3 linked regions of the Homo sapiens genome follow. The protein of the gene in region 3 interacts with the protein of the main gene of each other region in a pairwise test. Each region holds a gene or a part of one and is shown on either strand. Other genes may lie near its edges.

Region 1 (3,755 bases), on a different chromosome or scaffold from region 3:
TGCATTTACAAACCCTTCAGCTAGACACAGAGTGCTGACTGGTGCATTTACAAGCCTTTAGCTAGACACACAATGTTGATTGGTGCATTTACAATCCTTTAGCTAGACACGAAAGTTCTCCAAGTCCCTAATCGACTCAGAAGCCCAGACGGCTTCACCTCTCATAACCTCTGCCTCCTGGGTTCAAGTGATTCTCCTGCCTCAGCCTACCCAGTAGCTGGGATTACAGGCGCCCACCACCATGCCCAGCTAACTTTTCTACTTTTAGTAGAGACGGGGTTTCACTATGTTGGCCAGGCTGGTCTTGAACTCCTAACCTCAGGTGATTCACCTGTCTTAGCCTCCCAAAGTACTGGGATTACAAGCGTGAGCCACGGCGCCCGGCCAAGCATCCTCTTTCTAAGTCACTCACCCATGAGTATGAATTGTTTGCCCAGATTGCTTCGCTCCATTGTAGCTGATTTCAACCCAGTTGTAAGCCTGGAGCACCTGGAGAAATCAGACCCAGGTGGGATCTCAAAGGTGGAGAGGGTGGGAAAGGAGCAAAAGAAAGAGAAGCGGTGCAGAAAGGGAGGGACACAGATTCCAAAGACATACCTGGCCTGTCTGAAGTTTGCCTCCTCCAGGAAGGGAAGGCAGCATTCTCCCGGTGCTGTCTCCCTCCTCCCCCGTGTACTGTGCACATCTCCTTCCCAGACTCAGCCCAGTTGCACCAAAAGCAAGCCACAAGGCCCATAGGCTAGTCAGACGCCCAACAACCCCACACAATGACACTTATGTGGGGAATTGTGTCCTGAGTCCCAAACGACTGACCCCCCCAATGTGCTGTGAATAAGCAGTGACCACAACCAGTACCACCTATGACTGAGTCGGGAGGCTGCTCTCTAAGAACCCCAGCTGCATGCCCTCTGGGACAAATCAGGCCACCTGGGGCTCCTTCACATCTCTCCAATGCTGTGTTAAACGCACTTTTAACCAACTTTGTCAAAATGCTCAGCTGGTAAAGTTTTAACGTAGGCCCTTGTCAATGCTTCAGAAATAAGCCTCTGGCGGCGCGACAGAGCAAAACTCCCTCAGGAAAGAAAGGAAAGAAATGGAGAAAGGGAGAAAGGGAGAAAGAGAGGAAAAGAAAGAAAGAAAGAAAGAAAGAGAGAGAGAGAGAGAAAGAGAGAAAGAGAAAGAAAGAAAAGAAAGAAAGAAAAAGAAAGAAAGGGAAAGAAAGAAGGAAAGGAAGGAAAGAAAAGAAAGGAAAGAAAGGAAAAGAAAACAAATAAGCCTCCAGGTCATTGCTTAGAAAGAAAAAGAAAAAAGAAAGAAAGAAAAGAAAGAAAAAGAAAAGAAAAGAAAATAGCCTCCCGGTCATTGCTCCTCTCTCTCTCTGCGGGTCCACCCCCATGGCACCCTCCCCCCTCCCCATGGTGCAAGGTTACAATGGAAAGTGCCTCAGCTGGAAAGGTCTCAGAATGTGGCTCAGGGCAGCCACAATCTTATCAGGAGCTTCTCTGTTTGGGATCAGGGGAACCGGTGACTTTCAGAGGCCGATAAGGCGGGACCCAACTTGTATATAAGGGGCAGCTCATGCTGCTGCTCTGCACCTTCCTCCCATCTTGCCTTCTCCCTCGAGTTGGGACCCGGGAAGAACCATGAAGTGGCTGCTGCTGCTGGGTCTGGTGGCGCTCTCTGAGTGCATCATGTACAAGTGAGTCCGGGTGGTGTGGGTGTGAAGACGCTGCCTCCCACATCACCTTTCTTTCCTCCCGTGTCTTCCTTCTTCCCTTTTTTTTCTCTCTCTCTTCAGCTGTCTCCATCCCCCTTTTCCGCCTCTCTCTCTGCCTTTTTGGGAGGCAGCCCTGCAGACATGGTTAAAACTCGGGCCCAGCCTGACTGTGGTTCCCAGCTCCAGCCCTAGTCAGCTTAACTTCTTTGCATTATGGGGCAGAAGTGGGAGCTTCTCCCTTCCTTCCATCTTCCTCTCTTAGATCAGCTGGTTAAGAGTCCAGCCTGGGTTTGGCTCCCAGCTCCAGCACTAGTCAACTTAACTTCTTTGCATTGTTGGGCAGAAGAGGGGGCGTCTCCTTTCCTTCCTTCTTCCTCTCTTAGACCAGCTTCCCTTCCCTTCTGGGGCTGCCACAGCACCCGGTCAGCAGAATCCTTGCCTAATTCCTCTTCCTTCTCCAAACCACAGGGTCCCCCTCATCAGAAAGAAGTCCTTGAGGCGCACCCTGTCCGAGCGTGGCCTGCTGAAGGACTTCCTGAAGAAGCACAACCTCAACCCAGCCAGAAAGTACTTCCCCCAGTGGGAGGCTCCCACCCTGGTAGATGAACAGCCCCTGGAGAACTACCTGGATGTGAGTGTGCGGGCAAGTGGTGGGGCCAGCTCTGAGGACTTGGCCCGCAGGAAAGAGGGTGTCCCAGGGGTCTTGGAGGACGGGCCTGGGCTCTGTGGCTCCAGGCAGTGACCCAGAGTCTGCCCCCTAGATGTCAGTGGCCCAGGGCAGGCAGGAAAGCTCACAGTCAGAGTTCATTCATTCATTCGTTCACTCGTTCATGCAATGTTAATTTCTCTGAGCGCCTCATTCTATTTCAGGGCCTGTGCTGGGCTCAGGGGGAGACAGCAGTGAGCAAACTCATAGCCTAGGAGACAAACACAGTCATCAAGGGGTCTCGCAAACCAATGAAAAGAACAGGCAGCAGGAGGACTACAGAGTGACGGTGTCACACTGCGAGAGTCTGCCACTTGGGCAGGGAGCCTCCCTGGAGCCACGCAGGAAGAGCAGGAGTTTCCAAGAGAACAAGACAGAACTCCGCATAGCCTGATCCCTTGTGCCAAACCCTGTAGCAGGCGGGAGCACAGTGCCTTTGAAGGGGAGCCGAGAGGGAGGGAAGAAGGGTGCTGCAGACTGCGGTCCGAGGAACTGAGGGGTGGACGCAGAGAGGCTCCATCCTAACTGCCTCTGATTTATCTTAAACAGGGGGATGACAAGATCAGATCTGAGTTTCAGAAAGATCACCCTGACTTTGTTATTTGAGACCCGATAGCAAACACCCTGCCCTCCTGCAGATATTGTATGTCCCCTCTGTGACTGGCACAGGGCACAAAGCAGTGATGCCTGTGGTTCAGAGACTGGCCTCTGCCATCCAGCAGACCTGGTGCAAATATGGGTCCTAGTGCCTCTAAGCCACAGGACCTTGGCCAAGTCATTTAAATACTCTGAGCCTGTGTCTTGGTCTGGAAAACAGAACCACTAATATCTACCGTCAGAGGATGTTGCCAGGAATTAACACGATCATGTTTTCTGGAGTGCTTAGCATGGGGTCTGCCAGGCCCTTGGTAAGAGGCTTAATTAGCGCATTTATTTAGTTCACAAATATTTAACAAATATTGGCACCTCTCTATGTGCCAGAGGCTATGCAAGTTGCCAAAATGATGGTGAATAATCAAAGTTCCTGGAGCTTATACTCTAAAGGGGATAACAAATAAACAACCATGTAAGATAATTTCAGGTAATGATAAGGGCCTTGGCAAATTAATTAATGGGAGCATGGGGAACAAGAAGATTGAGAGGGGGCAAATTTAGATAAAGTGGTCACGGAAGGCCTGTTGGCAGAGGGGACATTTGACTAGAGAGCTGAATGATTGATTTTTGATAAAAGGATCAGCCAAGGAAAGATCTAGAATAAACATTTTCCTAGCACAAGGAATAGCCAGTGCAAAGGCCCTAGGGCAGGAGTGACTGGTCATCGCCAAAGAACAG
Region 2 (3,655 bases), on a different chromosome or scaffold from region 3:
ACTTTACTGTTTTAATATCAATATCTTGGTTGTGATATTATAATACAGTTTTGCAAGGTGTAACCACTGGGAGAAAGTGGGTGAAGCCTACACAGTATCTCTCTGTATTTCTTACAACTGAAGTGAATCTACAATTACCTCAATTAAAATGTCAATTAAATATAAAAGGGTCACTGCCGTTGAATGTTTTTGTCTCTAAAATTCATGTGGAAGCTTAATCCCCAATCTAACAGTATTAAGAAGTAAGGCCTTTTAAGAGGTGATTGAGTCATGAGGATTCTGCCATTAATGGATTAATGTGTTAACAGATTATCACAGGAGAGTTAGTTATCACAAGAGTGGGTCTGTCATAAAAGCTAGTTTGGCTCTTTCTCTTATGCCTCTCTTGTCCTGTGATGCCTTCCACCATGCTATGGTGCATCAAGAAGGCTCTCACCAGATGCCAGCACCATGCTTTTGTACTTTTGAGCCTCCAGAACTGTAAGACATAAGTTTCTTTTCTTTATAAATTACCCAGTCTGTGGTATTCTGTGATAGCAACACAAAATGGACTAAGAAAATAAAAATTTCTAAAAAAAAATTAAAAATACCATTCACAATAGCACTAATCAAAAATAAAATAGGTATAAACCTAACAAAATACACGCACAAACTATATGCTGAAAACTACAAAACATCAATGAAAGAAATTTAAAAATCTAAATAAATGAAGAGATATGTCATGTTCATGGGTTGGAAAAGTAAATATTGTTAAGATGTCCAACTTTCCCCAAATCGTTTTATAGATTCAATTAAATTCTACTAAAAAATCCAAGTACAATTATCTGTAGATATTAACAAGATTATTCTAAATTTAAACAAAAAGGAAAAGTAATTAGAATAGCATAAACAAATTTTGAAAAAGAACAAAGTTAGATGATTCTCACTACCTGCTTCGAAGATTTACTATAAAGCTGCAATCAACAATGTGTGGTACCTGTGAAGGGACACACACATCAGTGGAGCAGAACAGAATCCAGAAACAGACACACAAATGTAGTCAATTGATTTTTGACAAAGGTGCAAACGTAATTCAATGGCAAAATGACAATCTTTTCAAGACACGGTGCAGGGAAAATTGCACAACATATACCAGAAAAAAAGGATTATAGATAAAAATGTAAAACCTAAAACTTTAAAACTTCTAGGAGGTTCCATAAAAAGAAGAAAAATGGTAAATTTTGTATCATCAAAATGAACTTTTGCTCTGTTTAAGACACTATTGATAAAATAAACTACAGACAGGAAGAAAACATTTGCAAATCACATATTTGCCAAAGAGCTTTCATTTGGCAAACATAAAACCTCTCAAAGCTTAATAATAATAAAACAACCCAGTATTTTTTAAATGGGCAAACTTCACAAAGAACATGAATATATTATTAAAAGGCACAGGAAAAGATAATTAACAACTTCAGTCATGAGGGGAACTCAAAACCACAATGAGATAGTGCTACACACCTATTAGAATGGCTGAAATAAAAGAAAAATTGACAACGCCACACTCTGAAGATACAATATGAGTTCCCATCTGTGGAGCTCTCACACATTGCTGGTGGTAATGCAACATGGCACATCCACTCTGGAAAATTGTGCATCTATCAAAACTGTGCATCTATCAAAACTATGCATCTGTCAAAACTTACAGTATTGTATACTAAAAAGAATAAATTGGCCGCGCGCGGTGGCTCATGCCTGTAATCCCAATACTTCGGGAGGCCAAGGCAGGTGGATCGCTTGAGCCCAGGAGTTCGAGCCCAACCTGGGCAACATGGCGAAACCCCGTCTCTACTAAAAATACAAAAAAATTAGCCAGGAGTGGCGGCATGCACCTGTAATCCCAGCTACTCGGGAGGCTGAGGCGGGAGAGTCACTTGAACCTAGGAGATGGAGGTTGCAGTGAGCCGAGATCACGCCAGTGCACTCTAACCTGGGCGACAGAGTGAGACTCCATTTCAAGAGAAAAAAAAAAAAAGGAATAAATTTTAGTGTATGTGGATGAAGAATTTATAAAAACCATATGTTCATATTGAATTTTTTGTTTTTTTAACAGAAGTATATATATGACTGAAAAGTCAAATATCAAAATACTAACATCAGTATCTCTAAGTGATATCCGTAATTTTAAAATAAGTTTTAAAGAATATGATTTTTTCTGATATCTGACTACATACGTATGAACACACATATACATATATACTGTAGTCTCTCTATGTTCCTGTATGTACTAAAGTTCCAAAATAAATACCATCCTGAAGCACTAAAATGCTAAGATGCAAGGAAAATTAGGGAGAATTAAGATGGACTATATTTTCTTCCCTGTATTTCTATTGTTTCCTGTATTTGCACAAATTTTCTATAATAAGTATGTATCGCTTTTGAAATTAATTTTTAAAATTATAACACAACCTGACAGACCTAAATATAAGACAATGTGAGTGCACTAATGCATTGTCTGACTTTTCAGAATTCCATGCTTCTGTCTTACATCTTGTTCAATTCCACAATGGATCTGATCAAGTGGTGTCTCACTTTCCAAGAAAGCTCTGCTTCCACCGCACTCAGAAGGGCTACCCTGCAGGTGAGGCATGGGCCCTTTAACTGTCTAACTACAGACTGCACAAGAGAGCTATGTTGTATAGAATCCTAAGCAGTAAGATTTTTCCAAGCACGCTTGGATCACATGAACATCTGATTCAATGTGGAAAATTGTACTGTTGTTCTTGCTTCCCCCAGAAACATGACATTTCAGAGGAACACACAGAAACAAATGAAAACCCTCAAGAGCAGTTACCAATTTTGCCAAATGTTATACCAGACATGGGGGAATGGCAGGAATGGGAAAAGAAGTGACCTCAACTAGTGGTCAGATGACTTTCTGTAATTTCAATACCATTTGCAACTAAGAGGGAATGGGTGATTATATCATCAACTATTTCCCCCACTCTAACAAAACCAGGCCCCTATTTTATGCCTGATCCAAAAGAAACATGCAAAGAAGGTGAAGAGGATTCTATGCAAAGCATTATTCTCACAATTCTTCCTCCAGGTTAGGAAAAAACATTATTTGAGCCTTCAAGTTTATATGCATATTTTAGGGTCAAGTCTGAGTCTCCTGAAGAAAAAAATTGCAATTTTACACTCTCTGTATAATATCCAAAACCCCAAAAAACAAAAAACAGAAAAAAATCCACCTAATTTTGTTCCCTGAGTACTCAATAAACTACTGGCCTTCACGTGGCAATGTGTGGTTTTGACTGGCAAAACTAAGTACCATAGTTACATAATGACATGCAGAATCTCTTCTCAAGGTATTTTATTTCCTATTTAAAATTAAGTCATGAACTAGAGACAAGAATATGTTTTATGATAAGTATGTAAATAAATATAAGACTAACTCAAATGCAAAATGTAGTATACTTAAGCAGCTTATTTTCCCTCTTTAACATTTTTTAAATGTCAAAAATTCTCAGCATGTCTAAAAGCAAAAATGGTATCGTCCAGGTACACTTGACTATTTCCTATTCTTTGAGCACCCCAAGCTTTTCCACATCTGAGACTTTATTTATCCTCATCTCTCTCTGGTTTTCTGAAATTCCTTTGCAATACAGATTTA
Region 3 (2,938 bases):
AAATTTAGCTTTAGTTTGAAGATTCAAGACTATACAGATCATTAAGCAAATATTGAAAACCAAGCTATGGGAATGGAGACAAAAACTAATATACAACCCCAGCCACCACCTGTTGTTGTTAGGGTTTCCTGAGGTCCCAGTGCTATGGGAAGAGCTGACTTCTAACACCTGACTACTCAAGCTTCTTAACTAGATTCTCTGCCATCCTGGGGCTGTAGCCTAACCTCTGGTGGCAGAGCAGGTGGAGATGACCCAAGAAACTTACAACCTCAAACCAGGATGTCTTATTCAAGACTGAATTCCAACCTCCATGGGGCACTGAGTGCTCTGTCCTGGAAGGGAACAGGGTAGCCCCCTGCCGCAAGAGGCAGATGGAAGAAAATGAGGCTGCTTGCTGTGACAGGAACTCATGGGAACGGGAGTACAATCAGGGTGCAGTCTCTTTCCTCCTATTCCATCCTGACCCACTTGGAAGGGAACTATTCTACGGTTCCCCCAGAGATCCCTACAAAACACCCAGGCAATCAGAGGAGACACAGATGAATCAAAAGCAGGGTTTATTTTTCTATCAAATCCCCAATCCATGTTCCAGCCAATGGATGAAGGGTGAATCAAGCCCCACATAGACTCTTGGTAAAAACAATTCTAACTTTCTAAAAAAAAAAAAAGCCAACACACTTTTTTCTTTCTTTTCAAAAAGCTCCCAGGCCTTTGGGAACAGCTGAAACAAATTCATATCCTGACTAGGTCTGTTTTCTCTTAGGTATTTGGATGGTCCCTCTCTGCTGCCACTTCTGCACAGATGAGGCACTGATAATGGCCTGCAGGTCACTCACAATCCTAGCTCCACATCACTCCATGGTTTGATAACCTAGAACCACGTTATGATTTCCATTTATAATGCCCTAAGAACAGCTGAAAAGATCTGTATTAAATTCTGCAAATCTTTATTGAGTGCCAACTATTTGCTGGGCACAGGCTAGGCACTGATTCTGCTGGTTCTGAGAAACATAAATGGTACCATAGGGAGGTGTTTCCTCCTAAGTGGCAGGAGGATGTTTGCTGGGAGTTAAGTGAACCAATTCCTCCTCTGCTTACACCACGTGGGGGTAGGTCCAGAACTCAGGCCTTGGGAACATATGCTGTGCTCTCTTCTACAGGCGCTGTGTGGAAGAACCAATAGCAGTTGTTAAATAGCTGTGGAATTTCCTCCACAATCCACATAGTGATGTGTCTCCAAGGAGCTCTGGGTCATGAGGCCAATGTATGAAATCTTCACTGAAGTTCTAGGGAAAAGAAAACCAAGAAGAATTAATTATGTTTGGGGGATGAAATAAGCCAGAAAAATGTCCCAGGAAATTTTTTGCAAGTTCAGAGAACAATACCCACGGGCCCCAGGCACATATCCTCATGGTTATGTAACCAGGAGGCCAGAAGATCTTTCCACTTTCACAGAGATACTGTGCCAGGAGGTGGCCTTCCAAACAAGGCTTCTCAATCGAGAATGATTTTACCCCACAGGAGACTTCTGGCAATGCCTGAAGACATTCTGGGTTGTCACAACTAAGGGATGGAGGGTTTACTACTGGGATCTAGTGGGCAGATGCCAGGAATACTGTTAAACATCCTATAATGCACAGAACAGCCCCCTACAACAAAGGTCTGGCCCAAAATGTTCGTAGTGCCAAGGCTGAGAAACTCTGCTCTAACCCCTCATATTTCATGTCTGCAGCAGAGTCTTGTCACTTGCAAATTTAACAGCCATGCTTCCAGAAAACAACCCTAAAGGTCCATGACATGTGGTAATTTGTGTGGCTAGAGAGGAAGTCTGGTCAAATGCCCAGTACTTAACATCTTGAGAAAGCTTTTCTGTTCATGACTGTCTCATTAGGATTCTGAGGGGATCAAGTGTTTAGTTAAACTAGACCCATTTTATGGAGAAAATGTTTGACTGCTCAGGGTGACTGGTGATTTGTGAAGGGCATGTGGACACTGTGTTTAGAGAACACCAAGGGTCTACTGTATCTGTGCCTGTGAGGCACAGGGTGTCCCCTCGGGCTAGGTGCCTCTGCCCTGTGGTCACACAGGGGCCTCCTGAGCAAAGGTGGTAGGCTCACATGGCCGGACAGGCCATCGGGATAGGGAAGAGAGACGCACCGCATGAAGATCACTATGTTGTGCACCAGGATCTCAGGTACCGTGCAGAAGAAGCTACCAAACAGCAAATATGGAAATAGTCAGTTTTTTTTTTTTTAAAGCCTCAGTAGAAGAGTGCAGAGTTACACTGTCCTGTTTGGGGTGCCCCCCTCCCCCTTCCGACCTAAGTGCTGCCAAGGCTTGTCAGCTCTCAGTCCCTGCCACTGTCATTTTCATCCTCCCACAGCGTCATACCACTTTCTGTTTTTTCAAACCCATCACATAAGTGCTGGAGCTTGGTAACGTTTTTAGTGGCTTAATGTTCTCTTTTAGAAATTCCAGCACTTCTGTCACATATCAAATAATACATTCTTCAAATACACACATAATAATAATACATTCTTCAAATAAATCTCAAGACATCCAAAGCCAGGGAACCTATAAGTCAAAAGCTGAGATCTAAGGCAGGACCAGGCCCCAATCAATGGAGTATGACTTTGAATCCCTTTCCTCCAGTAGAGAGCACACACAGAGAGAACAGTGTCCTTACTACACATAGGAAAACGGTCCTCCCATCTCGGCCTTCCCGGTAAAATTCACCTGAAAATAAGATACCAGAGTTGGTCTGTGGCCAAGCAGGCTTGACACAGAACAGTATTATTATTAGCAATCCAAAGACCTTGGGTCATTCTTCCATCACATGCAAAATACTTCCCTGAGATTGTCCCTAATATAGTCTATGAGCCTCTAATTGATACTGCCAACCTCTTCCCTTTTGAGAGGCCAATGGACCTCAGGCTGT

The links.
Region 1: the proteins of TMEM106C (region 3) and PGA4 interact in binary tests that used the Homo sapiens proteins (3 or more experiments, as listed by UniProt).
Region 2: the proteins of TMEM106C (region 3) and AIG1 interact in binary tests that used the Homo sapiens proteins (3 or more experiments, as listed by UniProt).

The regions. Positions count from the first base shown.
Region 1 is NC_000011.10:61,220,758-61,224,512, forward strand, and holds the start of PGA4 (pepsin A-4 preproprotein), read left to right. Parts: upstream 1-1,589; 5' UTR 1,590-1,643; coding exon 1,644-1,699; intron 1,700-2,185; coding exon 2,186-2,348; intron 2,349-3,755. UniProt on the Homo sapiens protein: Shows particularly broad specificity; although bonds involving phenylalanine and leucine are preferred, many others are also cleaved to some extent.
Region 2 is NC_000006.12:143,067,374-143,071,028, reverse strand, and holds part of AIG1 (androgen-induced gene 1 protein), read right to left. Parts: intron 1-3,655. UniProt on the Homo sapiens protein: Hydrolyzes bioactive fatty-acid esters of hydroxy-fatty acids (FAHFAs), but not other major classes of lipids. Show a preference for FAHFAs with branching distal from the carboxylate head group of the lipids.
Region 3 is NC_000012.12:47,966,481-47,969,418, reverse strand, and holds the end of TMEM106C (transmembrane protein 106C), read right to left. Parts: intron 2,737-2,938; coding exon 2,687-2,736; intron 2,212-2,686; coding exon 2,158-2,211; intron 1,287-2,157; coding exon 1,190-1,286; 3' UTR 541-1,189; downstream 1-540.